Linked DNA regions of Homo sapiens. The main gene of each other region encodes a partner of the protein of the gene in region 6 in a complex. Each region holds a gene or a part of one and is shown on either strand. Other genes may lie near its edges.

Region 1 (4,268 bases), on a different chromosome or scaffold from region 6:
TTGGCCTAGCCTTGGCTTCTTCCTCCTGCTGGTTGGGGAGGCCCTCCTGGAGGAGAGGCACCAAGCAGGGCCTGGGGGGCAGGGGTGGCGTGTGGTTGGCTTCTAGGCAAGCGACACGTCCCCACCCAACTGCCTCCCATGGCACTGCTGAGGTGCCACCCTGGTTTCCTTGGCAGGCCCACTATTCCACAGGGAAGGTCAGCGCTTCCTTCACCTCCACCGCGATGGTCCCGGAGACCACACATGAAGCAGGTAGCCACCTTGGCCTCTGTAGCCACCTGCCATGTGACCCAAAAGTGGCAGGGGGTGGGTGTGCTCCCCGACTCCCACTTTATTGGTCTGTCAGGGGCTCCCACTGTCACCTGAGCCCCTAGTCCTCCCCCTCTTAGCTGCTGAACCCCTGCCAGCCCCATGAGGCTGGGGTGAGCCTGTGCGTGGCCTAAGCAGACCCTCGGCCTCCAGCTCCCCTGCTCTCCCCAGAGCTGGAGCCTAGTCCCCGCCTGTGTGTCTGAGGTCGGTGCTGCCTGGCATGGTGGGGCTGCCCCAGGGTGAGGGCAGGGGCTGAGCTGGGACCTTGGCTTGTAGCTGCCATCGACGAGGATGTGCTGCGCTACCAGTTTGTGAAGAAGAAGGGCTACGTGCGGCTGCACACCAACAAGGGCGACCTCAACCTGGAGCTGCACTGCGACCTGGTGGGTGTGGAGGCCAGCCACTCCCCATGCCCCAAGGTCATCTCTGGGTCATCTGACAGCCATGTCTTAAATATAGGGCTGCCACTGGTATGTGCTTGTTGTAGGAAATTCAGCCTGTCACTAGGCGGGACCCGCAGCAGTGCCCTGTGTCCTTCCTAGGGGGCCGCGTTGGCAGCATGGCCTGCGCACAGGTGCCAGTGTCTCAGAGAAGGGGCCAAGCCGCACCTGCTGCTCTGCCCACACTTCTCCCATGCGCTGTACTCTGGGCCGTGCGGCTGCACGGGTCCTGTTGCTTAATGTTGTGGGTCCATCCGTGCCCAGTGTGGCTGGGCAGCTGACTCTGCTACATGTTAAAGACCAGCCTGGCCAACATGGGGAAACCCGTCTCTACTAAAACTACAAAAATTAGCCAGGCATGGTGGCGCATGCCTGTAGTCCTGGCTACTCGGGAGGCTGAGGCAGGAGAATGTCTTGAACCTAGGAGGCGGAGGTTGCAGTGAGCCAAGATCGCGCCACAGCACTCCAGCCTGGGCAACAGCAAGACTCCACCTCAAAAAAAAAAAAAAAAAAAAAGCCTCCTGTGGCTGTGGTGAGCTGCCTTTGGCAGCTCTCTGCTTCATACAAGTATTGGGGCTATGTTGCAGACACCAAAAACCTGCGAAAACTTCATCAGGCTTTGCAAGAAGCATTATTACGATGGCACCATCTTCCACAGATCCATCCGGAACTTTGTGGTGAGTGACGAGAGTCACTGGCTGCACAGATGAGCTTGGTGGGACATCGGGGGCTGGGTGGGCTTGTCCCTGCCCCATCCCAGGGCCCTGGCCCATCCCACGGTGGCCAGGATGAGTCCAGTTGGTGATCCTCTGTTGGGGAACCCATAGACTGACCCTTGAGGCCCCAGCCCATCCAGAACTGGGTTCACAAAGGGAGGTGGCTGGGAGGGCCCCTCATTATCACCAAGAGCCCAGCCCCTGTGTGGAGCCATCTGGCAGGAGGGGTGTCCTTCAGTCAGGCAGGCGGTGGGCCTCGGGTCTCAGAGTGTGACTTGCTCACTGGCTTTTGTTTTCACAGATCCAAGGGGGCGACCCCACAGGCACAGGCACGGGTAGGTACTGGTGCTGGGCCCCTCTCTGGGCACTTTGGCTGCTCCGTGGGGCATGAGGGGGTAGCTGGGCAGGGGTTGTGCACAGCTCAGACATGGAATCTGCTAGACCAGGGTGGAACGACTGGCAGCCATCAGTGCTGTGCCCCCTCAGGCCTGGCCCTCAGTTTTCTCATTTCCAGGTGGCTGTGAGGCCTGCATGGTAGAGGAGGCAAGAGTGTGTGGTCTCTTCCCTGGGCCCCTGGGGTCTGCCTCAGACTGAGGCCAGCCCTCCCTCCTGCAGCCTCTCCAAGCCCCTCAGCCTGGCAGCTGCTTGGGTCCAGATCCCCCAACCTCTGTATTCCCATAGCTTGAGTGATGATGATGGTGGCCTTGACTCTTTAATCCCTGTCCCGGGGCAGGCCCCAGGCGGGGCTGGGGTGAGTGGGCAGCAGCCTGCCTGTTTGGAGGCGTGGGGGCTCCAAGGGACCCAGGAGTTGGTGGCGTGGGGCTGGGAGCCTCCCTATCAAGTGCCCCTGCCCCAGGCTGGGCTCAGCAAGGCCCTGATGCCCCTCGGGACTCTGAGGTTTCTAGTTCTGCCTCGGCTGGGGCCCAGGCTTTCCTGCTCCCATGGGCCTTTCTCTTCCAGGTGGGGAGTCATACTGGGGGAAGCCCTTCAAAGACGAGTTCCGGCCCAACCTCTCGCACACGGGCCGCGGCATCCTCAGCATGGCCAACTCCGGGCCCAACAGCAACAGGTCTCAATTGTGAGTCAGCTGGGCTTGCTGGGGTGGCCTGGGAGGTGAGCCGGCACTCTCTGCGGGTTCTTCCTCTTGGCCCTCTCTGAAGGGTGTGCTGGTTCTGAATCATACCCAGACGGTGTACGGCACACCTAGGCCAAGCATGTGCACCTGCGTTCAAAAGGGGGTCCCCAGAGTGAGTCAGCAGGGAGAGCTGCCCGCACCGGGTGTGTCCTCGAGAGACCAGAAGTCGGGAATTACTGGAGGTCCAGAAGGGCTTCTTGACAGGGACCAGGCATTCGTGTGGGTGCCTGTGGCCAGGCAGTGCTGGGGGAGGTCAGCGTGTGGGAGGGGTTGTGCAGGGCACAGGCTGCACAGGGAGAGGCGCCTGGAGAGACACAGGAGGTCTGGCCCTGGTGCATGTGGGGAGCAGTGTGCAGTCTGGTGGCAGGAGGCAGGGGATGGGGGGCCAGCAGGGCCATGCACACAGGGGCCGGATGCCTGTATTGTGGAAGAACAGAGGTGCCCTTTCCATCCCCAGACAGTGGCCTGATGTTATGTTTCAGTCTTTCAATCGTTTTCTTCACATGGGTCCTGTGACTTCCGGGATAAAGCAACCTCTTAAGGATTTTTTATAGTTTATGATACTTTTGTAAATGGACTTTTTTTTTCCCAACTTTTGGGGATCATTGCTCATGTAGAGAAAAACTACCGTTCATTTTATATCTAGCCACTTTAACAAATTATCTTATAATTCAAAAGTTTTTAAGATTTTTTTGGGTTTTCTAGATAGTCACGCTTATCACCAAAAGCTGGTCTGCTCTCTGCTTCCCTGGTGTGCACATCAGTCACGTCACCGTCACGTCACCGTGGGCCTGATGGGGGAGGAGGATGTGGGCATCTTGCTGTGCTCCACAGAAATCGCTGTTTTGCCTTCTCAGAACATTTGTTGTTGGGCTGTTTTTAGGAGGGTGGCTGACTTTTTAGAGGTTTCTTTGTTAGCATCTACTATGATGATTCTGTCCTTTTTCTGGTCCTCCCGGGATTTGTGGATGTGGCCACTACAAGGCCAGAGTGGATGGGTGTCTCCGTGGCATTCTGGGGTGAACCCTGGCCTGTCGTGGCTTCGCCGTGGCCTTCTGCCAGCTCACTGTCACACGTGGTCTCGGTTGTGTGGACTGGCTCCAGCAGGTTTTGCTGTGACAGGTGTGGCCCCTGCATGTTACGAGCAGGGCTGGCTGTGGCTTTGTGGCCTGGAATGGTTAAAATCACAGGGATGGCCAGGCGTGGTGGCTCACACCTGTAATCCCAGCACTTTGGGAGGCTGAGGTAGGTGGATTGCCTGAGCCCAGGAATTCGAGAGCAGCCTGGGCAACATGGCAAAACCCGATCTCTACAAAAAATAAAAAAAATTAGCGGGGCATGGTGGCGTGCGCCTGTAGTCCCAGCTGCTTGGGAGGGTGAGGTGGGGGGATAATCTGAGCCTGGGAAGTCAAAGCTGCAGTGAGCTAGGATCGCGCCACTGCACTCTATCCTGGGCAGCAGTGAGACCCTGTCTGGAAAAAAAAAAAAAAATCAAACGAGTCAGCTGTGCTTAACAGCTGGGCAAAGGCAGCTGGCAGCTATTCGTGCCACTTCCTTGGGGCTTTCATTTCAGGGTTAACGGGCACTTGTTTCCATGAAGGCTGGTATTCTCTTGGCCTCGCTGTGCTGACCTTTTTTTCTCATGCCTAATCACACTTTCCATTCCTC
Region 2 (4,268 bases), on a different chromosome or scaffold from region 6:
GAAAAGAAAAAAAAATTACCAGGCGTGCAAAAGAGTAGGAAAATACAATCCATAATGAGGAAAATGAATCAACTAATGGCAGTCAACCCAGAAATGGCACAGATGTTAGAGTTAGCAGACAATACATTAAAATGTTGTTATAGCCAGGTGTGGTGGCTCATGCCTGTAATCCCAGCACTTTGGGAGGCCGAGGCAGGCAGATCACCTGAGGTTAGGAGTTCAAGAACAGCCTGGTCAACATGGTAAAACCCTGTCTCTACTAAAAATACAAAAAAATTAGCTGGGTGGGGTGGCGCACGCCTATAGTCCCAGCTACTTGGGAGGCTGCGGCACAAGAATTGCTGGAACCTGGGTGGCAGAGGTTGCAGTAAGCCGAGATCACGCCACTGCACTCCAGCCTAGGCAACAGGGCAAGACTCCGTCATAAAATAAAATAAAATAACATAAAAATAAAATATTGTTATAACTGCATTCCACATGTTCAAAAAGTTAAGAGAGAAAGAATAGATTTAAAAGACCCGAAATCAAACTTCTAGAAAGGAGAATTATATTGTATGGGATTACTGTTAGATCAGAAATTACAGAAGAAAATAATAGTAAACTTGAACATATAGCAATAGAAATTTTCTAAAGTGAAATACAAAGAGAGAAGAATTTCTTTAAAAATGAAGAGCATCAGTGAGCTCTTCATTTATTTTTTCATTTATTATTTCATTAATAGAGGAATAATTTGAGTTCCCAAAGGAAAGAGAAGGGAACAGAGAAAATATCTGCAGAAATCATGACAAAATTTTCCCCAAATTAATAAAAACTAAAAACCCAGATCTAAGATGCTTAAAAAACCCCAAGCAAAGAAACATTCAGAAACTACACCAAGGCACATTGTAGTCAAATTGTTAGAACTAGTGATAAAATCTTAAAAACAGCCAAATAAAAATGACACATTATGTACACAGGAACAAAGGTAAGAATGACAGCAGTTTTCTCACTAGAAACAATGCAAGAAAGAAGACACTGGAGCAACATCTTAAAAGTACTGAAAGAAGGCTGATGCGGTCACTCACACATGTAATCCCAACAAGCTGGGAGGCCAAGGCAGGCGGATCACTTGAAGCCAGGAGCTCGAGACCAGCCTGGCCAACATGGCAAAACCCCATCCCTACTAAAAATATAAAAATTAGCTGGGTGTGATGGTATGCACATGTAATCTCAGCTACTCGGGAGGCTGAAACAGGAGAATCGCTTGAACCCAGGAGGTGGAGGTTATAGTGAGCCAAGATCACACCACTACACTCCAGCCTGGGCGACATAGCAAGATTCCATCTCAAAGAAGAAAAAAAAAAGTGTTGAAAGAAAAAAGATTGTCAACCTAGAATCCTAAACCTGGCAAAGATCTTTCAAAAATGAAGGCCAAATAAAGAATTTTTAAGACTACTCAAGCAGAACAAATTCAAAACCAGCAGACCCACAATACAAGAAATGTTTTTTTAATATTTTGTAGAAATGGGGTCTCACTATGTTGCCCAGGCTGGTCTCAAATTCCTGGAATCTAGCAATCCTACCACCTCAGCCTTCTCCCAAAGTACTGAGAGTACTGAGATTACAGGCTTAAGCCACCACGCCCCCTAACTTAAGAAATGTTAAAGGAAGCCCTTCAGGCAGAGGAAAAATGATATCAGATAGAAACCTGGATATACACAAAGAAATGAAAGAAACAAAAATGGTAACTACATGGCTTCATGCATGATTCTTATTTAAACCTCCCTAAAAGATAACTGACCATTTAAACAAAAATAATAACTATATAGTATAGGATTTATAACATATGTAAAAGTGAATATATGACAATATAGTGCAAAAATTGGGAGGAGAGAAATGAAGTATACTATAATGGCTCTTAATACTATCTGGAAGCAGTGTAACATCAAGAGAAGGTAGATCCTGATAAAGACATGATCTATAAACCCCAGAGCAACAACTAAAATAACAAAGCAAAAACTTAACAGCTAATTAACCAACACTGGAGATAAAATGAAATCATAAAAATTGTTCAAGTAATCCAAAAGAAGGTAGAAAAACAGGAAAAAGGGAACAAAGAGCAGAATGGATAAAGAGAGGGTCATTTCATGATAAAGGGGTCAATTCATGAAGACCTAACAACACTACACATTCAACTACCTAAAAATGGAGCTTCAAAATACTAGCCCATCCCTGTCTCAGTGCCTTTGCACTTGCTTGCATTTACTGTTACTTCTGACCCAGATGATCCTGTGGCTGGCGCTTTTTCATTCGGGTCTTAGTTCAAGCACCACCTCCCCAGTGAGGCCTTCCCAAAGGCCTCCCTGCCACCCCATCCCATTACCCAGTTTCCTCTGCTTCAACATCCTTATCTACATCTGAAAGTATCTTGTTCTCTGATTACCAGTTTACCTCAACTGCTGACTCCTCACTGCCTACAGTAGTGCCTGGCAGAGAGTTGGTTCAATAATTGTTTAAAAAAGGATGAGGGAGAAAGGAACAACAGTCAGCCAGCCAGCCAAAGGGAAGTGAAGGTCCTCCCCTCTCAGCCCTGTCTGGTACCCTTACCCGTCCATCGCCTCCTCAATCTTCTTCTTCCTCAGCTCAATGAGTTCAGGGGTCTCCATTCCAGCAGGCACTGATGAAAAGCCTCCAGGAGTGATAAGGCCACTGTAAAGAGAGGAACAAGCTCTGGAGTAAAGAGAAGGACCCCAAAGATAGCCCACTTCCAAGAGGCATTCTCTGCTTCCCCCACCTGTCTGCAGGGGTAATAAAGCCTGTCTCATCTGGTTTGTCTTCATCACTTTCTTCCTCTTCCTCTTCTTCTGAGGATTCTTCATCAGATGGTTCCAGTTCCCCCCAAGGGGTCCGATCAATCTCTTCTTCCTCAGTCTTGGTCTGAAAGAGATCACTTTATCATTCAACAAATGTTTTCTAAGTACCTATTATGTGCCAGGCTGTTTTAAGCTGAAGGGGTGTAAGAGTCAAAACACAATAATCCCTACCTACCTAGAGCTCAAATTCTAGTGAGGAGCTTACATTAACATCTCAGGAAAATGTATGCCCTTTTCCAGGCTCTGCTGTGTCAGAACACACAACTCCCTGATAATGAAGCTATAAACCAACAATCTAACCTTCATGACATTAAGTAAAACCAAGATCGCTAGTACATGGCCCATACCTGAAATTCAGCAGCATTGGTTCCAAACACGTCCCCATAGAGCGGTTTCCCAGTCTCATCCACTGGAGGTTTGCCCCAGCCACCAGCATGGTACCCAAAGGAACAGCTCTGCAAGACAGTGAGCACAATCAGTTCACTCCTTAGCTGCAAAAGAAATTCTGAAGCCCTAGAGAAAAGGCACACTCAAAAGTACAGAGCTGATACTTGGGAACTCCGGAAATTATGACTGCAGAATTAAATCAAATGTTATGAAGCATTAGAAACCAAAATTAATAAACAACTAAAATCTGGAGGCAACAGGATAAGGAGACAGGAGGCAGAAAGTATGCTAATAACTTCTGTCATGGCAGAGTCTTTACTGTCTGAAACCAAAATACGTACATTGAAAACATGACTTCAATTTCTTATTGAGTTTTCCTAACTTTGGAAAGCTAGCTTGTTCAGAATCTATTTATCTTAAGGGGCAGAAATTTCTATCTAAAATTTAACAATACTACTGTTTTACTTTAATGACTCATCAATTTTTTTAATGCTTATTTTAAAATAAGAAATTTGAAGACATTCTTGAGATAAAATTATTTCTGAGAGACTGAAGTGAAGCTAAAAAAAAATTATTTCTTTTTTCTTTTTTTTTTTTTTTAAAGTAGAGGTGCGGTTTCACTATGTTGCCCAGGCTAGTCTTAAACCCCTGGCCCCAAGGGATCCTCCCACCTCAGCCTCCCAAAGTGCTGGGATTACAGGTGTTGAGACACCACATCTGGCTGAGATAAAATTATTTCTCTCTGGTCATTCTTAATATTCAGAGACATATCTGGAAACACATTCACCAAACAGTGAATTTGGCTATTTCTGAGTGGTAAAATTGTGACTTGCTTTCATCTTTGTACTTGTCAATTCTGACTGAATATTTTATGATGAGCATGTCAGTTTCTTTAAAAAACAAAAACCATTATTTGTTTTTCTACACATACACATGGTATATGACAAATATTATGTCAATAAAATATTTTTTAAGTAAATAAAGAGACACATGGTGGAGTTAGAGAAGGAAAACAAACAAATTACCTTC
Region 3 (4,268 bases), on a different chromosome or scaffold from region 6:
TTCCTCCCTGCAGAGTAGTGAAGCCCCGTGTCAACTCACTGAGGCCCAAGGGGTTAGGGCTGGGTGCCAACCTGACCGAGGCCCAGGCCTTGACCCCCACTGGCCCCTCCCGCATGCCAAGACCAGATGAGGAGCAAGAGAAAGATAAGGAAGATCAGCCTCAAGGGCTGGTGCCTGGAGGAGCTGTGGTGGTTCTTTCTGGCCCTCACCGAGGCCTCTATGGGAAGGTAAGGAACCAAGATATCCCGGGAGCCCAAAACAGGCAGCAGGGAAGGTTGATCCGAGGGTCAGATGGAGGAATAATTGGATTTGAGGTAGAAAGGCTGGGACTCCTAGTCTTTTAGGTCTGCTTGGCCCACTGCCTCACTCAGTAACCCAGGACCACTTGCTGGCCTTTGTGAGCCTCAGTTCCCAGCTAAAAGGAAGAGAATGCCATATGCCACAAGTCCCTGAAGATTAAATGCTTAAAGGATCCAAGGAAGCCCCACAGTCAGCTGAGGGAGACACAGGAACCAGACCTGGTCCCACTTCTCAGGGGTCAGAGTCTGGTTGGGGAGACAGAGGAAGCAGGCCTCTTAGAGGTAAGGGGTTGACATCTTGGTCCTAGGAATGTGGGTGGAGTCCACAACCCCTACCTGACTTCTTCCCCTCAACACTTTAGGTGGAAGGCCTTGATCCTGACAATGTTCGGGCCATGGTTCGTCTGGCTGTGGGGAGCCGGGTGGTGACTGTTAGTGAGTACTACCTGCGGCCTGTCTCCCAGCAGGAGTTTGACAAGAACACCTTGGATCTCAGTGAGTGAGCCTCTTGTAGAGCTAGGGGAGTTGGCAACGCATTCCTAGGGGTGGCAGGGCCTGGCTAATGGGGTGGTTTTAGATCTGCAGCAGGGAGGGGCAGCAGTGTGCCTGGCAGATATGACTTCCAATCAGAGGTCAGGAGGTGAGAATGGACATAAGTGACTTACTCCATTTGATTGGAGAAAGGTCGATGTCATACCCCTGGGTCTGTAGCCTGTCTGAGTGAGAAGAAACAGGTGCAGAAACCAATTCCTACCTTCGAGATCTTTGTCCATTTGGGGTGATGAACCTCTCTTTTACTAGGGAGTGAGAACTGCTAGGATTAGGGTGTGACCAAGAAGGAAGGAATTCTAGGCAGACAGAACAGCACAGGCGAAGGCGTTTCGGTAGGACGGGGCAGTTTGGCAAATGGGTACAGACAGAGCTCTCTGGGAATCTCTAGTCCACACTAGGTGAGCATTGTTGTTGTGGGCTAGGTTGGCTGCGGGAGGGTTCCTGAAGGAAGCTGAAATGGTTGAGAGGTGGGGGAGAGGCATTCTACTAGCAAATGCATGAGGGGTGAGAGGGGCACTTTGGCAGGTGGGAGGTGGCTCTAGGCTGAGACATGGCCTTGGAAGGAAAGGGCAGTGAGACACTGAGGCTCTGTCCTGGTTCTCCTCATAACCTCTTGAACAGGCCAGATGAGCAAAACTTCCTTCCCCAGGGCAACAGAACGGAACTGCCTCATCACGGAAGACCCTCTGGAATCAAGAACTCTACATCCAGCAGGACAACTCAGAGAGGAAGCGGAAACACCTTCCAGACCGGTGGGACTCTGAGCATGCGGGAGGGGTCAAGAAGGCAGGGCTGTGGGTAGGCTCGAGCAGCCAGGGAAGGCTTCCAAGGCAAGGCGGGCTCATAGAAGGAACGGGGAACTGCATTGTGGGTGGGTTTCATAGCATAGGCAAAGGGAGGGCAACTGGAAAGTGCATCTGATGAAGAGCTAAGCCTGGTGCTGGCACCTTCTCCACAGACAGGATGGGCCTGCAGCCAAGAGTGAGAAAGCAGCCCCCAGAAGTCAGCACTGGTTGCACAGGGACCTGCGTGTGCGGTTTGTGGACAACATGTACAAAGGAGGCCAATATTACAACACCAAGGTGGGAACCCTGCAGCCTGAGTCCCCCTCCCTCTCCTAGGGACTGGGCCCCCCTACCTCTCTAAAATCTCACATCCCCCTGACCTGTATCCCCAGATGATAATTGAAGATGTCCTAAGCCCAGATACCTGTGTATGTCGGACAGATGAAGGCCGAGTCCTGGAAGGTGAGTTTGAGCGATGGCAGCTGGAGGTTGATCAAGAAGAGTGTTTTAGGCCCAGAGCCTGGCCCAGGCAAAGCTGGGAGGTTTGGCAGAGTTCAGGTATTTTGCAAGGCCTAGCATCCTCTTACAGAACATTAGACACTTCCATGATGGTGGTTGGTTATCTTGAGCCCCACTCTCCCAGTCTGTCAAGTTTTCTTTTTTTTCTTTTTTTTTTTTTTTGAGACAGAGTCTCACTCTGTCACCCAGGCTGGAGTGCAGTGGCGTGATCTCAGCTCACTGCAACCTCCACTTCCCAGGTTCAAGCGATTTTCCTGCCTCAGCCTCCCGAGTAGCTGGGATTACAGGCAAGCGTCACCACACCTGGCTAATTTTTGTGTTTTTAGTAGAGACAGGGTTTCACCATGTTGACCATGCTGGTCTTGGAACTCCTGACCTTAAGTGATCCTCCCACCTCGGCCTCCCAAAGTGCTGGGATTACAAGCGTGAGCCACCGCGCTCGGCCTCCGGTCTGTCAAATTAGCATGGAATTTACTATTTCTTCCTCTTGTGATTGGTGCCTTAGTGAAGGAATGTGTATTGAGCTCTCAGTGCAGGGCAGGGGTTAAAACATGCCCACAATAAAAGGTGCCTGTTGTTATCACCACCACCCTTTATTACAGTGATTTTTGTAAACTACTCCTTAGGCTACCTCATCTGTGAAATGGATGTGGCGGGACTCCCATCTGTCAACAGGGTGTAGAGTGGCTCCAGGGAATACAGGAAAGGCCCTTCTTTTTTTTTTTTTTTTTTTTTTTTTTTTTTTTGAAACAGAGTCACTCTGTCACCCAGGCTGGAGTGCAGTGACGCAATCTTGGCTCACTGCAACCTCCGCCTCCCGGGTTCAAGCTATTCTTCTGCCTCAGCCTCCTGAGTAGCTGGAACTACAGGTGCCCGCTACCACACCCAGCTAATTTTGGTATTTTTAATAGAGACAGGTTTTCACCATATTGGCCAAGCTGGTCTTGAACCCCTTACCTCGTGATCCTCCTGCCTCAGCCTCCCAAAGTGCTGGGATTACAGGCATGAGCCACCACACCCAGCTGAAAGGCCCTTCTTTTTTTTTTTTTTCTTTTTTTTTTTTTGAGATTGGGTCTCATTTTATCACCTATGCTGGAGTGCAGTGGCACCATCATGGATCACTGCCACCTCAAATTCCTGGTTTCAAGCCATCCTCTCACCTCAGCCTCCTGAGTAGCTGGGACTGCAGGCACTGACCACCATGCCTGGCTAATTTTAAAATTTTTTGTAGGCTGGGCGCGGTGGCTCATGCCTGTAATCCCAGCACTTTGGGAGACCGAGGAGGGTGGATCACCTGAGGTCAGGAGTTTGAGACCAGCCTGACCAACATGTCAAAACCCCATCTCTACTAAAAATACAAAATTAGCCAAACGCAGTAGTGGGTGCCTGTAATCCCAGCTACTCAGGAGGCTGAGGCAGGAGAATCGTTTGAACCCAGGAGGCGGAGGTTGCAGTGAGCCAAGACCACACCATTGCACTCCAGCCTGGGCAACAAGAGCCAAACTCAGTCTCAAAAAACAAAACAAAAAAATCTGTAGAGATGAGGTCTGACCATCTTGCCCAGGTTGGTCTCGAACTCCTGGGCTCAAGCGATCCTCCCAACTTAGCCTCCCAAAGTGCTGGGACTACAGGTGTGAGCCACCACGCCTGGCCAGGAAAGGCCCTTCTGACAGGACGCTGGTTGGGCTGGTCCTTGCTGTGGGCCTCACTCCCCTCTCCCTTATCCATAGGCCTGAGGGAAGACATGCTGGAGACCCTGGTTCCCAAGGCAGAGGGTGACCGTGTGATGGTGGTGCTGGGCCCACAGACTGGAAGGGTGAGTCTCAGACCTGGCAGTAGAGGTTTGTGGGTCGTTCAGGGCCTGTCCCAGGGTCTAGGCTTGCCTTGCTGATTCCACTTCACCTCTGTTCCAGGTGGGACATTTGCTGAGCCGGGACAGAGCACGGAGCCGGGCTTTGGTGCAACTGCCAAGAGAAAATCAGGTGGTGGAGCTTCACTACGATGCCATCTGCCAGTACATGGGCCCTAGTGACACAGATGATGACTGACCCATGGGACTCCTCCCATCCCCCAGGCTGGTACCAGTTCTGTACCATATGAGAAAGTTGCCTTC
Region 4 (4,268 bases), on a different chromosome or scaffold from region 6:
TTTGGACCTGAAAATTGTACCTCATGGATTAAATTCGCTGAATTAGAGACAATCCTTGGTGATATTGACAGAGCACGGGCAATCTATGAATTAGCCATCAGTCAGCCACGTTTAGACATGCCAGAGGTGAGCATCTCAAGTCAAATATAATTTTGTTTGAGATACGTGTTTAGTCTTACTTTAGATGACCATCTAAATGTGGGTGTATTTTAGAGTATAACGATGATCTAACTAACTTAGTCTCTTCTACTCAGATTAGGCTTGTACGTGGAAAGGTGGCTGTGGGGGACAGGGGAAGTAGCCCTCTCATTAGATACCAGAGCAGTAGACATCCAGGATGATGCCCAGGATGAACTGGGATATCATGGGGGTGGGTGACGCCCCTTCTGCAGCAGGAAAGCCTAAAGGGGCTGGGGAAGAGGCCAGGCAAGGAAGAAGCCAGCAGGCTGGCCCACCCGGAGAACGAGGGGGATGGAGGTAGGAACTGCACATCCCTGTATTCTCTAAACCAGGATGTCCTTGCAACTTCTGTTGTCACTGTCCTGAAAGTCCTCGCCTGCCTTCAGTAGTTAAGCTTGACCCACAAGGTAGCACCAAACCACAGCTAGGAAAGATTTGAATCTCACATGAGTCGTAGAACTCACCCAGCCGTTTTGTTAATCTCATGCACTAACATGACCCTGCATTTAATGGTTTGGCCCCCTGATTGCATTAATTAAGGCAGGGCTTTGGGTATCACTGAGTTCATCAGTTGTCCTCGGCTCCTCCACCAGACTGCCAGCTTTCAGGTGTCCATGCCACGGTTTATTCATCCTTATTCCCTGCCAGGCTGCACCGAGCCAGTGCGCACCTGTTCAGTGAATGCTTGTTGCACTGAACTCTCATAATAACAAGGAATGTACAGTAGAGGTAAGAACATGCATACTGGCTAACCTGGGCCTGTTTTCTCTCTGGACGCTCAATTGCGTGTGGCTAGAATATGGAGTACCTGGGAGATGCTTGGCAAGTTTCTCAGCTCTTGATAAGTCAAGCATTTGAAAAACTTCCAAAGAGAATCTCTAAGACTGAATCCAAGGCCCTTTTTCTGTAATCTGGAATTCTAGCCAAGTTTTGGCCAGCTTATAGATACCAATGTTATTTATCTTATCCACATGTGTTCTTTAGTTGTTCAGTAAAAATCCTATGTTCCTAGATGTAGGTTAGAGTGATACTTCAGCTGTGCTTTGGATGGGGGCATGCTGCTTTGTAAATGTCAAGACTGACCCATTTACTTTTCTTCCTTAGGTGCTTTGGAAATCATATATTGATTTTGAAATTGAGCAGGAAGAAACAGAAAGAACACGAAACCTTTACCGGCGGTTGCTTCAACGGACGCAGCATGTCAAGGTATCCTTGCTTTGTAGATGATCTTTCATTTTGCTTGAATCAGCAGTCCAGAAGAAAATGATATATTTCTGTATTTTAAGTGTTTGGGTTTTTGTTTTTTTTTTTTTTTTAATGACTTCCTTGCTTTTCAAGAGAAACGTGAGTCTCAGAGGACTTTGGAATGTTTGGAATGTTAAGTTTATACCAGGTCATTGTTTATGCTGCATGTGAGTAGCTTGGGTATCACAAGATTGAAAAAAAGTTAAACTATTTTTTTTTTTTTTGAGACGGAGTCTTGCTGTGTCTCTAGGCTGGAGTGCAGTGGCGTTATCTCGGCTCACTGCAACCTCCGCCTCCCAGGTTCAAGCAATTCTCCTGCCTCAGCCTCCAGAGTAGCTGGGACTAGAGACGCGCACCATAATGCCCAGGCTAATTTTTCTATTTTTAATAGAGACAGGGTTTCACCTGTTGGCCAGGATGGTCTCGATCTCTTGACCTCGTGATCTGCCCACCTCAGCCTCCCGAAGTGCTGGGATTACAGGCGTGAGCCACTGCACCCAGCCAAGTTAAACTCTTTTCAAGAGTTTAAGACTATGTCAGACATTTAATTGTAGAATGTAGAATCAAATATTTTCAGTGTTTATATTGAAGCATATATTCATTGTTTTCATCTGTGAAACATTAGTGATGCACACATTACTTTCCGATGTCATTAACTGGGAATTCGCTTTATTATTACTACATTATTATCTTCTGAGTGATATGGTTAATTTGGTTCAATAATAACTTTTTTTAAAGGTATGGATCAGCTTTGCTCAGTTTGAGTTGTCTTCAGGAAAAGAAGGAAGTTTGACTAAATGCAGACAAATTTATGAAGAAGCTAACAAAACCATGCGAAACTGTGAAGAAAAGGAAGAGAGACTTATGCTGCTGGAATCTTGGCGAAGTTTTGAAGAAGAATTTGGAACAGCTTCAGATAAGGAGAGAGTAGACAAACTCATGCCAGAGAAAGTCAAGAAGAGAAGAAAGGTCCAGACTGATGATGGGGTAAGAACTCTGCCCTGGGACTGTTCATCTCACGTCACATGAGTAGAAACACTTCTGACGTCGAAATGTGGACTTTTAAGTGGCATATGTACAATCTTAGAATGGAAGCAGACCACCTGGAGTAGGAGATGGTTGCAATCTGGCTGTTATGGAAACACGGGGTAGAACATATGGTCCAGTCAGAGGTGGAGAACGGGAAGGGGTTGGCAAAGGTGTTTTGGTGATGGTTGAGTCTGGGAACTTCATGAAGTGTGATATTTTTAGAGCATTTAATAGGAAGTAAGTGTGGAGGAAGATGGAACTGAACTTTCAGATAGGAGCCTATCCAGAGAAGGCTTGTAGGCGGTAAGAAGGAGTTTGGTGGGAGTCAGTGAAGGCTGTTTTGCATAAAATGACGTGACCAGATTGCTAGCCTCTCATCCTGGCAGACTCAAGGGGCTTAGATTGGAGAAAGAAGACCCATCAGGAAGCAGTTTTTATAAGCTGAGCAAGACATGGAAGCTGGAACTAGAACAGGGCCACAGGGCCTGTTAGAACAATATTTGGGAAGTGAAATCAGTGACTGATAGGAGGTGAGGATGGGAAGGTAGGGAGTTGGAATAATAATGCACAGATGTATGGCTTTTGCTACTGGGTGAATATTATGTAAAGATCGTTAAACGTTTTCTTAAGTGTAAGACTGCACAATGTAGTTGGAGACACTGAACATCTTGGTTGGCTATAGAGGAGCTGTGCTTAGATTTTTAGAATGTTTTTCTACCAGTTTAGTTCTCACTGAGCTACAGTTGCTGCTTACTCACTCCCAGTCTTTCAGACCCAGCCCTTGTTCTTTCTGTAGTAGACTTTGATGTTATTTTGTAAAATGGAGGTAATCATCCGGATTTCCAGTAAAAATTCTTCACTCTGATATGTGAGTATATCACCCACGTTTGCTTATCTTTTCATTTTTTATTTCTGTAGTCTGATGCAGGCTGGGAAGAATACTTTGATTACATCTTTCCAGAAGATGCTGCCAACCAACCTAACCTCAAACTCCTGGCCATGGCCAAACTGTGGAAGAAACAGCAGCAGGAAAAGGAGGATGCTGAGCACCATCCAGATGAGGACGTCGATGAGAGTGAATCCTGATCTTTTTTTCATAGACAAATGTTTTGTTATTTTTATAAATTAATTGTTTGGAACTCTTGTGACTCCTGGAAGTTCTTATATATTTCACCAGTAAGAAATTGATTGGTATCTTTGATGGCTACTTTTTAAGTTATTTTTTAAATGCTCTTGGGTTAGCTAGGGGTAGGGATTGCAAGTAAAGGACTTTTTTAACTGCTGGATTTGTTTTTCCAACTGAGTCCAAACTTTTCTAATGTCTGTCCACATCATGCATTAGGAAATGTAATTAAGGTAACATTCTACAGTTACTTTTCATGTCATACCCATAAAGATAGTTTATGCATTCATCTGAAATGTGTAACTTTTTCATGTCTTCAGAGTCACAGACTTGAGTTCATTTCCCAGCTCTGCCACTCATGATTATATAACTTAATTTTCATTTTCCTCATTCACAAAATGGGCCAATAGTTTGACAGCTCATTTTGAAGATTACATTATAAAAGGAATATACCTGGTGGGTGCATAGTAAGTGCTCAGTAAATTGTTTGTTCTAAGCCACTTTTAAAAATGGTTTCATTCCTTGTAGAATTGAATGCGAGTGGATTAATAATTTACCTTACTTTCTTACTAGTGTCCAGTTATATTGTTTTTTAGAACAACACTTGGAAAATAATTTGCAGTGATTATATTTCTGAACAAGGTTCAGAAAACATTGTTTACTAAGAATTTAGTCTAATAATTTCAGTTAG
Region 5 (4,268 bases), on a different chromosome or scaffold from region 6:
ATGGAGTTTCATCATGTTGGCCAGGCTGGCCTTGAACTCCTGACCTCAGGTGATCCTCCCACCTTGGCCTCCCAAAGTGCTGGGATTATAGGCATGAGCCACTGTGCCCAAAATAATAACCTATATGGAAATTTTGTAAATTAGCTTGCATGTTATTAAGCTATCCTTATCCACCTCAACTCATCTCTTTAATTTATTTGTCTCCCTGTAGTTTATTCCCTCTACCCCGCATTTTAACTTTCTGGAAACGTGTGGTAAAAAGCAATGTGTAAAAGGCAGGCTTCCAATCTGAAAAGAGATGAGCGAAAACAGTATATAGCATAATGGACTAGATCAGAGTAACTGCTTAGGATGGAACAGCCAACCGTTCTTCAGCTGCTTCCAGAGTTCATCTGTAGCCCAGTTATCTAGAGCCTTGCTATTCAAAGATGGTCTGTGCACCAGCAGCACTGGCAGCACCTAGGGACTTGGGAAAAATGCAGAATCTCAGGCCCCACCCAAACCAACTTAATTTGAATCTTTTTGTTTTGTTTTGCTGCTTGACACCACAAAGGTTTCTTTCTGTCTCTCCTCATGATGAATTATGTTGGTGGGGATGAGGAGTGCTGGCTTCCGCATGGTCACAGGACTATCAGGAACCCATTCAGAAACACACGACCCATTTAGCAGCTCCTCTCCTTAACTGTCAGGTAACGTTTGTCATGCAACAGATCTCTAGAACTCTTTTCATCTTCCAAAACTGAAATTCTATGCCCATTAAACCGTAACTCCTCATTTTCCCTCCCCACAGCCCCTGGCCACCACCACCACCAGAATCTGCATTTTAACAAGATCCTGAGGTGGAGATCATAGCAACTTATAGTCTGAGAAGCCTGAACCAGACAGCAATTTGCTCCTTCCAATTCTATGCTTAGGTCTCTAATATATCCTTTACCTGAGATTTCAGCAAAAACTGTATCTAATTACCTCACATGGAAGTAGGGCCTACCCTCCTTATCTGCAGCTTGCTGTTAGTACCATCTACCACTTGGAGCCATCCTAGTTAATTTGGATCAGTGTGAGGAGAGAGGCCATTTCTCTTCCTGTCTCCCATCTCTGAAGAGGAGGAGGGAGTAAAAGCTGAAAAACAACAGGAATGGAGCCAGTGGCAAAACCAACCGACGCCACTGACCAGGCCTGAGGTTAAAGATTAACCCCCCAACTCTAACCATGTGTTGCCTATAGATCACTTGCTCCGTCTATCACAACCCTTTCACGCAGACCCTCTTACAGTTGTAAGCCCTTAAAAGGACCAGGAACTTTTTCTTCAGGGAGCACGGTTCTTGAGACACAAGTCTGCCGACGCTCCTGGCCGAATAAAGCCTCTTCTTTCTATAACCTGGTGTCTGCGGGGTTTTGTCTGCAGCTCGTCCTGCTACAAGTACATCATAGCTGAAATTGAACCTTATTAACTGGTATGTTCAAATTCAATCCACTAGGCAAGAGGCCATTAAAGATAGGGAGAAATGAAAACAACACACCACGGTATGGACCTTCTCAAGTTATTTTTATCAGTAAAGAAAATGGCCAGGCACAGTGGGTCACACCCATAATCCTAGTACTTTGGGAGGCCGAGGTGGGTGAATCACTTGAGCCCAGGAGTTCAATACCTGCCTGGGCAACACAGTGAGACCCTGTCTCTACTAAAAATAAAAAAAGAAAAAGAAAATAGAGACAGTCTAGATGTACTGAAATTTCCAATTATGTAATCCACTGACAGAAAAAAGTGTGGATATGCCAGAAGTAGTAACAGAAGTCTAGAATTTATAAATACTGATGTATTTTTGGATTGCCACAGGTCAAGCAAATTCTTAAAAGTTATTTAAAGCATATAAGGTTCTAATTTCAGCTTTGTTCTAATAGCTAATCTACTTTTTACTTCATAGAATTGTCTTGATTTTGAAACCCTGGCATTCGGAAACATCCTGACTTCTAGTGTTTCAATGGTTCATTCAATACTTGTATTATAATTGGAAACAGACGCTGGCTGCCTATCTTTATTTCTATTGTAAAGTTTCCATATTTGCTTCAATTAATTTACATATAATTACTGTACATGAGAGATAATGTTATGACAAGAATAGTTTCTGCAACATTAAGTATGGGTCAAAAAAAGAAGAAATGGGCCAGGCGCGGTGGCTCATCCCTTTGGGAGGCTGAGGCAGGTGTATCACAAGGTCAGGAGTTCGAGACCAGCCTGACCAATATGGTGAAAACCCATCTCTACTAAAAAAAACACAAAACTTAGCCAGGCATGGTGGTGCACGCCTGTAATCCCAGATACTCAGGAGGCTGAGGCAGGAGAATCGCTTGAACCCGGGAGGTGGAGGTTGCAGTGAGCCGAGATCACGCCACTGCATTCCAGCCTGGGCAACAGAGCAAGACTCCATCTCCCAAAAAACAAAGAAATGACTTTAGACAAATGGCTTGAATGAAATTACAAAGAGGAGTGCATTAAAAAATACCAGCAGTAAAATCTCTTGAAGAATTAAAATGACAGGCTAAAAATAAATAATAAATGTTCTTTTTAGAAAATACTAAGTTGCTGCTGGCACTCTATATTCTTCTTCTTTGTTTTAATGGATGACTTGTATGTACATCTTCTGGCTTGTCCTCTGGAGGCTTTGGCACAGATGAAATTACCTAATTAAAAAAAAAAAAGAACCATTAAAACTTAGTTTCTATAGCACAGGAGTAAATAAGCTATTAGAAGAGGTAAGACTACATCCAATAGTTCAATCCTTGATGTCACTTTCGAGGCAGAGTTCGCCTAAGTTCAAGGTACAGCCTATGACCTAGGCACAGAGTGGAGTCTTCCATTTGAATACTGATGACAGTAAAATTTCTAAAGCTATTTAAAAAGAAAAAAAATTTGGAGGAAGAAAAGTGAACATATGCTCTACTTTAACATTCCTTTATAGATCTAAAGACACTTGTTATATTACGGATTCAGATAGATATCCTGGTTTTGCATTCTTGAAACACTGATAACGTTTGATAGATTTGGGGGGATGAAAACCTTTGGAGAAATGAGCAGGAAGCAGTATAATCCTCAATTTCCTGGAGAAAAAGGAAAAGCAAACACACCATCAGAAAAAGAGTGTACAAAGAGTATACAATAAGTCAAAGCAAAGTAAGAGTCTTCATTTGAAATGGAAAATTATTAGAAACTATAGTAAACTGTATTTAATATCTTTTTTTTGTTGTTCTATTTCTGGACCTAGAATTTGGACTTCACACGTTTATCTTGAAAATGTAATCAGCTCTGGTTGAGACAGGTATGTATCTATGTCTATGCCTCAGTTCAGCTGTAACTGAAGGAAGGAAGTAAGGGTGGCAGCACAAACTGAAAACCTTTTTTTTTGAGACAGGGTCTCACACTGTCACCCAGGCTGGAGTGCAGTGGCATGATCTTGGCTCACTGCAACCTCCGCCTCCCAGACTCAAGTACCCTTCCACCTAAGCTTCCCAAGTAGCTACAAGAGTTCACCACCACGCCTGGCTAATTTTTGTATATTTATGGTAAAGATGGGGTTTCATCACATTGGTCAGGCTGGTCTCAGACTCCTGGGCTCAAGCAATCTGCTCACCTCAGCCTCCCAAAGTGCTGAAGTTATTGGTGTGAGGCACTGGGCCCAGCCTAAACTGAAAAGCTAAAGAAGGCTTCAAAACTGTGCCCACGGATTTTAATTATTATTAAATAATACCTTTAATCAGATATTTTTAGGTAAAAAATGTACATATATGAAATTAAACTACCTTAGCCTCCCTTAATCACATTGTAAAATATGAGTAAAACTATGTGAAAAGCAGTTTCTGCATCTTGGAGTAAGTATAAGAGAATGTCATAACCCTCAGTTTATGATTTGTAACAGTAGTCCCTACCCCACAAAAAGGTGTCTTTCAAAAGCTAACTCAGATGTTAACTTCATTTGTGCTTAGGAAATGGAAAATGATTATGTAAATGACATTAAAAAAAAAAACAGACTACCTAGGCAGCACAATCTGATCCCGATCATTTAAGAAGTCTACATTTGAAATGCATACCTGGAGGCCTAATTTTTAGAAATCTCACCACCTTCTATTGCTCTTTATCACAAAAGCAAATTAAGCATTTTGAATTTGATATAAACTGTAATAACTCTAAATTTGAGAGAAATAATTTACAATACTTTTGCTTCTCAACTTTGGCTCATATTAGAACTACCTGGGGAGCTTTTAACAAAAAT
Region 6 (3,797 bases):
TCCCACTCTACTTTCCAGTAGAACTTACACTTCTGTATTCTTGTGTGTGCGCATGCGCCCGCGTGTGTTTTCCCAGGCTTAAAGTGTCCTAGTTAGCTAATGGCAATTGGTACTAGAAATCAGATTTCCTGACAGCCAGCCTAGTACTTTAATCCCGTTTTACAGCTTCATTTTTAAAAGAATCCCAAATTGATATATTTCTATAGCATTAAAAGAAAAATCCAAAAATCAACAACAAAAAAACCCAAGAGGCACTTTTGTAGGACACTGACTCTTTTATTTTTTTGAGATAGAGTCTCAGTCACCCAGGCTAGAGTGCAGTGGCACAATCTTGGCTCACCAAGCAATTCTCGTGCCTCAGCCTCCCAAGTAGTGGGGATTACAGGCGTGCACCACCACACCTGGCTAGTTTTCGTATTTTTAGTAGAGATGGGGTTTCACCATGTTGGCCAGGCTGGTTGTGAACTCCTGACCTCAGGTGATCTGCCCGCTTCGGCCTCCAAATGTGTTGGGATTACAGGCAAAAGCCACCATGCCTGGCCTCCCTGGTTCTATTTTAGAAACAAAAGGTTGACATACCACAACACCAAGTTTTTAATCACCTAATTTCTTTCTTCTCCTAGTGTCTCAAATCTCAGCCCACTATAAGAAGTTAAAATCAGAACTGTTTCATCTTGTCTCAAGTTTCAACATACAACTTCCAATTTTTTTGTCATCATGCTGGCATTTACATCCAAATGTAAAGTATGTTAATTTTCGTTTCCCTGAGGATAGGTATTCACATCAACACACACAATATGCTGTTCCTAAACTTGTACCTTGGATTGGTTGAAGAGCCTTTGGTCATACTGAACTTCATTGGAAGTCCGAGGATTAGGAACACCGAGAGCAATAACTTCACTGATATCCCGATTTTCATTTCTCTGAAGTTTCGACCTATTTTGAAATACGACATCACTAACTGAAAACTCTTTATAGACAAGCTGAATATGTTCAATAGAAATACAACCAATCTCAGAAACAAAGGATGTGAATATGTCACATTCACATCTTGTGAACATATATTCCTTGATGATACATAATCAAGCTGGCAGCCCTTATAAAGCATTTCAGATTAGAGGGAGAGTTTTACAATTAGGACGTCCTGTTAGCTCAAAAGAACATCTAACAGATTCGTTGACATGGAATTCTTTAATATAAGCAATCACCTTACAACCATGCTGAGATATAAAATTGCTATGGTCTATATTTACTATCATTATATGATGGTTTGGGGGTTGGGGAAGTGGATACAATTTAGATGTAGCACACGAAACATTTTAAATAAGCTAGAAACAGCTCTTTTATCTAACCACATTTAGTAATTTTATCCCACTAGAATTTTGAGGAAAACATGTCAATGACTGAATTAGTATGATTTTTGACATTCAGATTAATTTGGTTTCCTGGCTGTTGCATTATATATGCAACCTACATCCCAATGAAACCATGGTAACTGTCATTACTTGTTTTACTAAAAACTCAGGTCACAAAATGATTTCTATAGGCTGTTTGATTTTCATCCAGTTACAATTTCACAGCTTTTCTATGTTGTCAATTCTGATAGCCACTTTACTCGTTTTGAGGGCCCAATTTATCCACAGAGCCATTGTAACTTTTACAACTTAGGAATTACTAACCAAGACTGTCATTAATTAAACACTTTCACACTTTGCTCCTCCTTCTACATGTACTTTACCCTCAACTCTCAAGAGTAAGAGTCTTTGCTTCTCCATGACATCATTTATCCAGGGAGATGAAATATGCCAATTAATACCAGCAGGAATCTTTTTCATGCTTATTTATTTTTATTTTTTTATTTTTTATTTTTTATGACACGGAGTCTCACTCTGTCGCCCAGGCTGGAATGCAGTGGCACGATCTTGGCTCCCTGAAACCTCCGCCTCCAGGGTTCAAGTGATTCTCCCACTTCGGCCTCTCGAGTAGCTGGGACTACCGGCATGTGCCACCACACCCAGCTAATTTTTGCATTTTTAGTAGAGATGGGGTTTCACCATGTTGGCCAGGCTGGTCTTGAACTCCTGACCTCAAGTGATTCGCGTGCTTTGGCCTGCCAAAGTGCTGGGATTACAGGTGTCAGCCACTGTGCCCGGCCTCTTTTTTGTGTTTAAAATATGACTTGAAAAATGTATTAGGCTCATGGGATGATCAGAGCACAGAAAACTGTTCATTTGGGAAGAAAATATTCTATATTTGCATTTAACCCTCACTCAGAATTCCACCTTAGTATTGCAGCGTTCCCTCTACTTTTCAGAACTTTTAGTCCTCAGCCTTTGGTGAGCCATAAACTTCCCCAATTCCTACTTTACTCTATGCCCTCATATATATATTTAGTTTGTTCTATACGTTTATACTTACTAAGAGTGCTTTGCAAATTTTCTCAAATTATTTTATGGATAGCTCTGTCTTTCTGAACTGTAAGTTAAACTACTCCTAAAAATGAGCTGATTTTCTACTTCTTTCAAAACTGCTCTTCTCCTCAATTGTACTAGATGCAGTACTATGCATATAAAATGATCTCAATAAAAGCATGAAAGCTTATTTCCTGTCTAAAGAGGCACATAATCCATTTATCTCACCATTTGAGGTAGAAAAAGAACGGACTATAACAGTCCAAATTTACTACTACATCCTTTTCAAAAATCTGATCTCGATTCCGTTTTCTATATTCCCATCATTCTCAATTCTGACTTAAGTGATGGAAGATTAATTCCAAAGACAGTCAACTAGAGCTAAGACAAAGTAGTTAAGTACAAGAAAATTAAGTGCTAATTTATTAAGTTATCAAACTAAAGAAGAAAGGGAGAGAAGCAAAACTGATCTTAGTGGACTAAAACTCTGCTCTAAAAGGTACAAAAAGGCCACTCTTCATGATTGGTACATATCTTTTTTTTTTTTTTTTTTTTTTGTGAGATGGAGTCTCGCTCTGTCGCCCAGGCTGGAATGCAGTGGCGTGATCTCGGCTCACTGCAAGCTCCACCTCCCGGGTTCACGCCATTCTCCTGCCTCAGCCTGCCAAGTAGCTGGGACTACAGGCGCCTGCCACGACCATGCCCGGCTAATTTTTTGTACTTTTAGTAGACACAGGGTTTCATCGTGTTAGCCAGGATGGTCTCGATCTCCTGACCTCGTGATCCGCCCGCATTGGCCTCCCAAAGTGCTGGGATTACAGGGGTGAACCACTGCGCCCGGCCACCATGATTGGTACACATCTTAAATAACACCTACCTCTTATCAGGAGCTGCCCTGGAAAGATTCCGGTCATGCTGTCTCTCTTTTCGCCTGTCATGCCGGATTTCATCCCTCTCACGTGCCTCCCCATCCTCTGTGTGAACAGTTGAAAAGTACTTCACTGTAATATGTATTATATGTGTGCATACGTGTACACGTGTGTATATATATAATTTTTTAAAAAGAGACAGCATCTCACTCTGTCACCCAGGCTGGAGTGTAGTAGCATGAACATGGTTCACTGCAGCCACTACCTCCTGGATTCAAGTGATCCTCCTGCCTCATCCTCCCGAGTACCTGGGACCACAGATGTGTGCCACCATGCCTGGCTAATTTTTAAATTTTTTGTAAAGATGGGGTCCCACTTATGTTGTCGAGGCTGGTCTCAAACTCCAGGCTCTAGTGATCTTCCCACCTAGGCCTCCCAAAGTGCTGGAGTCACAGGTGTGAGCCACTGCACTCAGCCCCATTAGTATTTTGTTTGTTTTGAGACGGAGTTTCGCTCT
Region 7 (4,092 bases), on a different chromosome or scaffold from region 6:
GAGTCTCATCCCTGTCCATTTCTCCTTGCAGACGGTGGGCAAGAGCAGCAAGATGCTGCAGCATATTGATTACAGGATGAGGTGCATCCTGCAGGACGGCCGGATCTTCATTGGCACCTTCAAGGCTTTTGACAAGCACATGAATTTGATCCTCTGTGACTGTGATGAGTTCAGAAAGATCAAGTGAGGAGTGGACTGTGGGGGGCGGAGACTGGAGGATGGGAATGGATTGAGTGGGTGGGCCAAGCAATAGAGGTGGTGATGTAGCTAGTTGGTTCTTCTCTGTTTATTCTCCAGTTTTAGAGGGCAGACTTAAATGGGGACATTGAACGCTAAGAAATCTTTTTGAGTCCAGCAAACCTTGCTCTCTAGTCTAGCAAAGTACAAGTTGTGAAGGGCTGCTAGGCTTTTTGTTTCTCTCACTTTGCGTGCCCCTGGGTACTGGGGTAAAGGGCTCTCATGTTCTCCCCACAGGTGTGTGAGGGGGGAGAGCTTGAGTTTCTGGCCTCATTGCCTATTTGTAAAGCTGTAGCCTAAAGGGCTCTCCCAATGCAGCCTGGTCTGAAACTGCTTTAAGAAGCCTCTGACCCTCTTCAGGGTAAGTGCTCAGCTCCCCATGTGGGTTTGGGGCCAGTGATTTTTGTTGGCATTTATACAAACAATTGGAGATATTGTCTACTTTGCTACAATTCCGTAAGTTATTGGCTAACTCCCTTGCCTTGAGTCTCACAGATCTTAAGCTTTTGGCCCATTAAAAGATATGATTTAGCTTCCCATCATGTTTTACATTCAAGGCTACTTGAGGCACAAAAAGATGATGTGACTTCCGTGGCCAGCAGCTCTTTTGTCATATGCAGTGTCCATATTATTCTGTCACTCACTTTGAATTCCCTTTGATTCTCCTTGGGGCTGATTTCTTCTGTGACCCAAGGTCAAGAAGTATAGTTTAAAAATGTGGTAGGGATGCCTTGGTGCCAGGTACGTATTAGAGAGGGGCCAACAGATGAGCGTGGAGCTACTCCAAAGTTCCCTCCTGATTATAAAAAATGTTTATTGGAAAATATTTTTGAAAATACAAAGAAGTCTATGAATAGAAACTAAAATACCCCGAAGGGTTTTTTTCTAATTATGAAAGGACAATACATGGTTATTATTTTAAAAAATAAGAAAATGTGAGCCAAAAAAGGGAAAAACTGTCCATCCACAGACAACCAGTTAATATACTGTAAAATATCAAAACAAAATCTTTTGAGTTCTTTTTTTAAATCAGGCTATTTTTTCCCCTTTATTTTTAGGATCTAGCTTTAGCTTTTTTCCCCACTTTCCTATCCTGTTGCAGTTATTTTTCCTACTTCACATTTATATTTTGTTCATCTTTTTCTGGTTGTTGCTTTTTGGGGGTTTCTGTTTTTATGCTTTTGAGGAACAGATATGAAATTTCAATTTCTGTGTATGTGAAATTTCTCTTAACCTTTTCCTTCTATGGCTTCTCCTATTTCTGATGTAAGATGAGGGGCAGAATTATAGGCCTGTGAGGTTGAATTGATATTAGAAGGACACTGCACGTAAGTGAGGTGGGTGGGAGTCATTTGATTGGAATTGTTTAGGCAGCCTCCTGATGTTGGCAAGACCTTAAGCTGAAGGGAGGGAATAGGGTCCTAAGAAAGAAGACTTGGCTGAGGGAAGGGCCTTCACGGTTGCTGTGGAATAGCATTTGGGCCCGGGCTGGGCTTTGTTGACCTTGTCCTATCTCTTGGTCAGTGTGTCCTCTTGGCATGGTAGGAAACAGGTAGATAGCCACCTAAGAGGTTATGTGTTCAGCCTGTAGAGACTATCCAGGAGGGCTATCTTGGGAAAGTTTGTGTACTGTTTGTTAGGAGATGCAGTATAAGCAAATCTTGGAGGCCACTAGGCAGGTGAACTTTACCCACCTCTAACACTTTTTTTGTTCCTTCTAAACCTCTCTTTAGGCCAAAGAACTCCAAACAAGCAGAAAGGGAAGAGAAGCGAGTCCTCGGTCTGGTGCTGCTGCGAGGGGAGAATCTGGTCTCAATGACAGTAGAGGGACCTCCTCCCAAAGATGTAAGTCAGAGCAGGAAGCCTTGTGGAGGAGGGGAGGCCCTACTGTGAGCCAGGCTCTGTGTTAGATTCTGTTTCATTGCAGTTCTCACAGGCATCCTCTGGATTTTGCCCCCTTTTTCAGATAATAAATGAAATCTTAAAGAGGTTACCCTGCAAGAGGCCGGGCGCGGTGGCTCACATCTGTAATCCCAGCTCTCAGGGAGGCAAGAGGCGGGAGGATAGCTTGAGCCCAGGAGTTCGAGACCTGCCTGGGCAATATAGCGAGACCCCATTCTCCAGAAAAAGGAAGAAAAAAAAAAAGACAAAAAAAAAAAAAAGAGGTTACCCTGCAAGAAAGAAGTGGAAAAGGGGAACTAGAATTTGGGTATCTCAGACTTTAAAGCTCTACCTGTTTCTCAGTTGATGTACATAGTGAGTCAGTGGAGGAAGCACCTGAAGCCATCTGGGTCAGTTCTTAATGTGACGACAAAGCCTAGGTAGACCTTAAAAAGTTGTAACTCCGAAACAATAGGAAATGTGTGTATTTTGTTTTGTACAGTTACAGTTCATAGTTACTGAGAATCTACCTTGCGCCAACCACTTCAGTATTTTATTTGATCCTTTAGGTCTCTTTAGAGATAAATTCTCATCTTATAAATAGAATAAACCAGGGCTTAGTAACTTGCCCAAGGTGCCACAGCCACTAAGTGGTGAAACTGACATTTGATCTCAGACAGTCTTGATTCTGTAAACACCAAGCTACACATAGAAATAGAGCAGGCTTTAGAGACCTAGTCAAATTTGTTTTCCCTTTCCCTTTTTCATTTGAAGGGTTTTTTTTTTTTTTTTTTTTAGATTTTTAGATGGAGTCTCGCTCTGTCGCCAGGCTGGAGTGCAGTGGCACGATCTTGGCTTATTGCAACCTCTGCCTCCCGGGTTCAAGTGATTCTCCTGCCTCAGCCTCCCGAGTAGCGGGGATTACAGATGTGAGCCACCACGCCCTGCCAAGACGTTATTTTAATCAAAAGAGAATAATCCTTTTAACTTTTTAAAAATCCACATATATTATCTGGATTTTTTTGTACTTAACACATAGTGGGCATATATTATGTTGTTCTGTGTTTTCACTTAATGTTAACATTTTTCTAGTTGCTCAACACTTTTAAAGTCAAGTTAATGACTGAGATTTTCTCAAATGAGTACAGAGTAGTTTATCCTAATCATTTTCTTTTTTGGAGATTTTTACGTTTTTGCCTTTTCCAGTTAAAAATGTCTGCAAGGGATGTTAGCATATCTTGGTTCAAAGTCCATGTACATATTCAAATCTCTTAGTACCTACTTCCAGTAGAATTGGCTGGTCTAACATAACCCATCATAAACCTTTGTGATCACAACCAGTTGTACCATAACCATGTCATTTGCAGATAAGGCAACTCAGCCCGGGATTGTGGGATTATTTGTCCATTGTCACCTAGCGGATTAGAATCAGCTGGGAATGGATCTCATGTCCCTTTAATGCCTTGCCTGCTGAACCCTGAGTGGAACCCTGGCCCTTTGCTCTTGGTTTAACTTTCACAGGAGTGCATATAGGTGGTTGAGTTGTGGCATGTTTCTCTAGACTTACTCTTAAGTTCTACCCTGCTTCAGGGATAACTCATAGTCTTGGATGGAGGAAGAATGGTGTTGGCACACATGGAGAGGTAGTATTTATAAGCTATTTCGATAGTATTTATAAGCTATTTCGAGGGGCTCTCTTGGCAATGATATTCCAAAGTATACTTCTGATCTTCAGATCACTGGGCATCAGAGCATATTTGTTTATTTTTCAGACTGGTATTGCTCGAGTTCCACTTGCTGGAGCTGCCGGGGGCCCAGGGATCGGCAGGGCTGCTGGCAGAGGAATCCCAGCTGGGGTTCCCATGCCCCAGGCTCCTGCAGGACTTGCTGGGCCAGTCCGTGGGGTTGGCGGGCCATCCCAACAGGTGAGGAGTTGGGGAAAGGGTACCACCTCCTGGTGGCTAAAATAAAGGA

What was found.
Region 1: SNW1 (region 6) and PPIL2 share a complex: the UniProt entries of both Homo sapiens proteins name them as parts of the minor spliceosome.
Region 2: SNW1 (region 6) and SF3B2 share a complex: the UniProt entries of both Homo sapiens proteins name them as parts of the minor spliceosome.
Region 3: SNW1 (region 6) and GPKOW share a complex: the UniProt entries of both Homo sapiens proteins name them as parts of the minor spliceosome.
Region 4: SNW1 (region 6) and CRNKL1 share a complex: the UniProt entries of both Homo sapiens proteins name them as parts of the minor spliceosome.
Region 5: SNW1 (region 6) and RBM48 share a complex: the UniProt entries of both Homo sapiens proteins name them as parts of the minor spliceosome.
Region 7: SNW1 (region 6) and SNRPB share a complex: the UniProt entries of both Homo sapiens proteins name them as parts of the minor spliceosome.

The regions. Positions count from the first base shown.
Region 1 is NC_000022.11:21,686,307-21,690,574, forward strand, and holds part of PPIL2 (RING-type E3 ubiquitin-protein ligase PPIL2), read left to right. Parts: intron 1-176; coding exon 177-252; intron 253-585; coding exon 586-692; intron 693-1,336; coding exon 1,337-1,426; intron 1,427-1,766; coding exon 1,767-1,800; intron 1,801-2,425; coding exon 2,426-2,543; intron 2,544-4,268. UniProt on the Homo sapiens protein: Has a ubiquitin-protein ligase activity acting as an E3 ubiquitin protein ligase or as an ubiquitin-ubiquitin ligase promoting elongation of ubiquitin chains on substrates.
Region 2 is NC_000011.10:66,062,048-66,066,315, reverse strand, and holds part of SF3B2 (splicing factor 3B subunit 2), read right to left. Parts: intron 3,308-4,268; coding exon 3,200-3,307; intron 2,917-3,199; coding exon 2,774-2,916; intron 2,689-2,773; coding exon 2,587-2,688; intron 1-2,586. UniProt on the Homo sapiens protein: Component of the 17S U2 SnRNP complex of the spliceosome, a large ribonucleoprotein complex that removes introns from transcribed pre-mRNAs.
Region 3 is NC_000023.11:49,113,556-49,117,823, reverse strand, and holds part of GPKOW (G-patch domain and KOW motifs-containing protein), read left to right. Parts: intron 1-13; coding exon 14-227; intron 228-661; coding exon 662-794; intron 795-1,500; coding exon 1,501-1,603; intron 1,604-1,809; coding exon 1,810-1,933; intron 1,934-2,028; coding exon 2,029-2,098; intron 2,099-3,885; coding exon 3,886-3,971; intron 3,972-4,068; coding exon 4,069-4,203; 3' UTR 4,204-4,268. UniProt on the Homo sapiens protein: RNA-binding protein involved in pre-mRNA splicing. As a component of the minor spliceosome, involved in the splicing of U12-type introns in pre-mRNAs.
Region 4 is NC_000020.11:20,035,467-20,039,734, reverse strand, and holds part of CRNKL1 (crooked neck-like protein 1), read left to right. Parts: coding exon 1-126; intron 127-1,284; coding exon 1,285-1,386; intron 1,387-2,163; coding exon 2,164-2,412; intron 2,413-3,372; coding exon 3,373-3,540; 3' UTR 3,541-4,268. UniProt on the Homo sapiens protein: Involved in pre-mRNA splicing process. As a component of the minor spliceosome, involved in the splicing of U12-type introns in pre-mRNAs.
Region 5 is NC_000007.14:92,535,265-92,539,532, reverse strand, and holds part of RBM48 (RNA-binding protein 48), read right to left. Parts: exon of another isoform or gene 3,106-4,268; intron 3,100-3,105; coding exon of another isoform or gene 2,989-3,099; exon of another isoform or gene 2,683-2,988; coding exon 2,596-2,682; 3' UTR 1-2,595. UniProt on the Homo sapiens protein: As a component of the minor spliceosome, involved in the splicing of U12-type introns in pre-mRNAs.
Region 6 is NC_000014.9:77,719,893-77,723,689, forward strand, and holds part of SNW1 (SNW domain-containing protein 1), read right to left. Parts: intron 3,386-3,797; coding exon 3,289-3,385; intron 937-3,288; coding exon 819-936; intron 1-818. UniProt on the Homo sapiens protein: Involved in pre-mRNA splicing as component of the spliceosome. As a component of the minor spliceosome, involved in the splicing of U12-type introns in pre-mRNAs.
Region 7 is NC_000020.11:2,463,698-2,467,789, reverse strand, and holds part of SNRPB (small nuclear ribonucleoprotein-associated proteins B and B'), read left to right. Parts: intron 1-31; coding exon 32-183; intron 184-1,970; coding exon 1,971-2,082; intron 2,083-3,890; coding exon 3,891-4,043; intron 4,044-4,092. UniProt on the Homo sapiens protein: Plays a role in pre-mRNA splicing as a core component of the spliceosomal U1, U2, U4 and U5 small nuclear ribonucleoproteins (snRNPs), the building blocks of the spliceosome.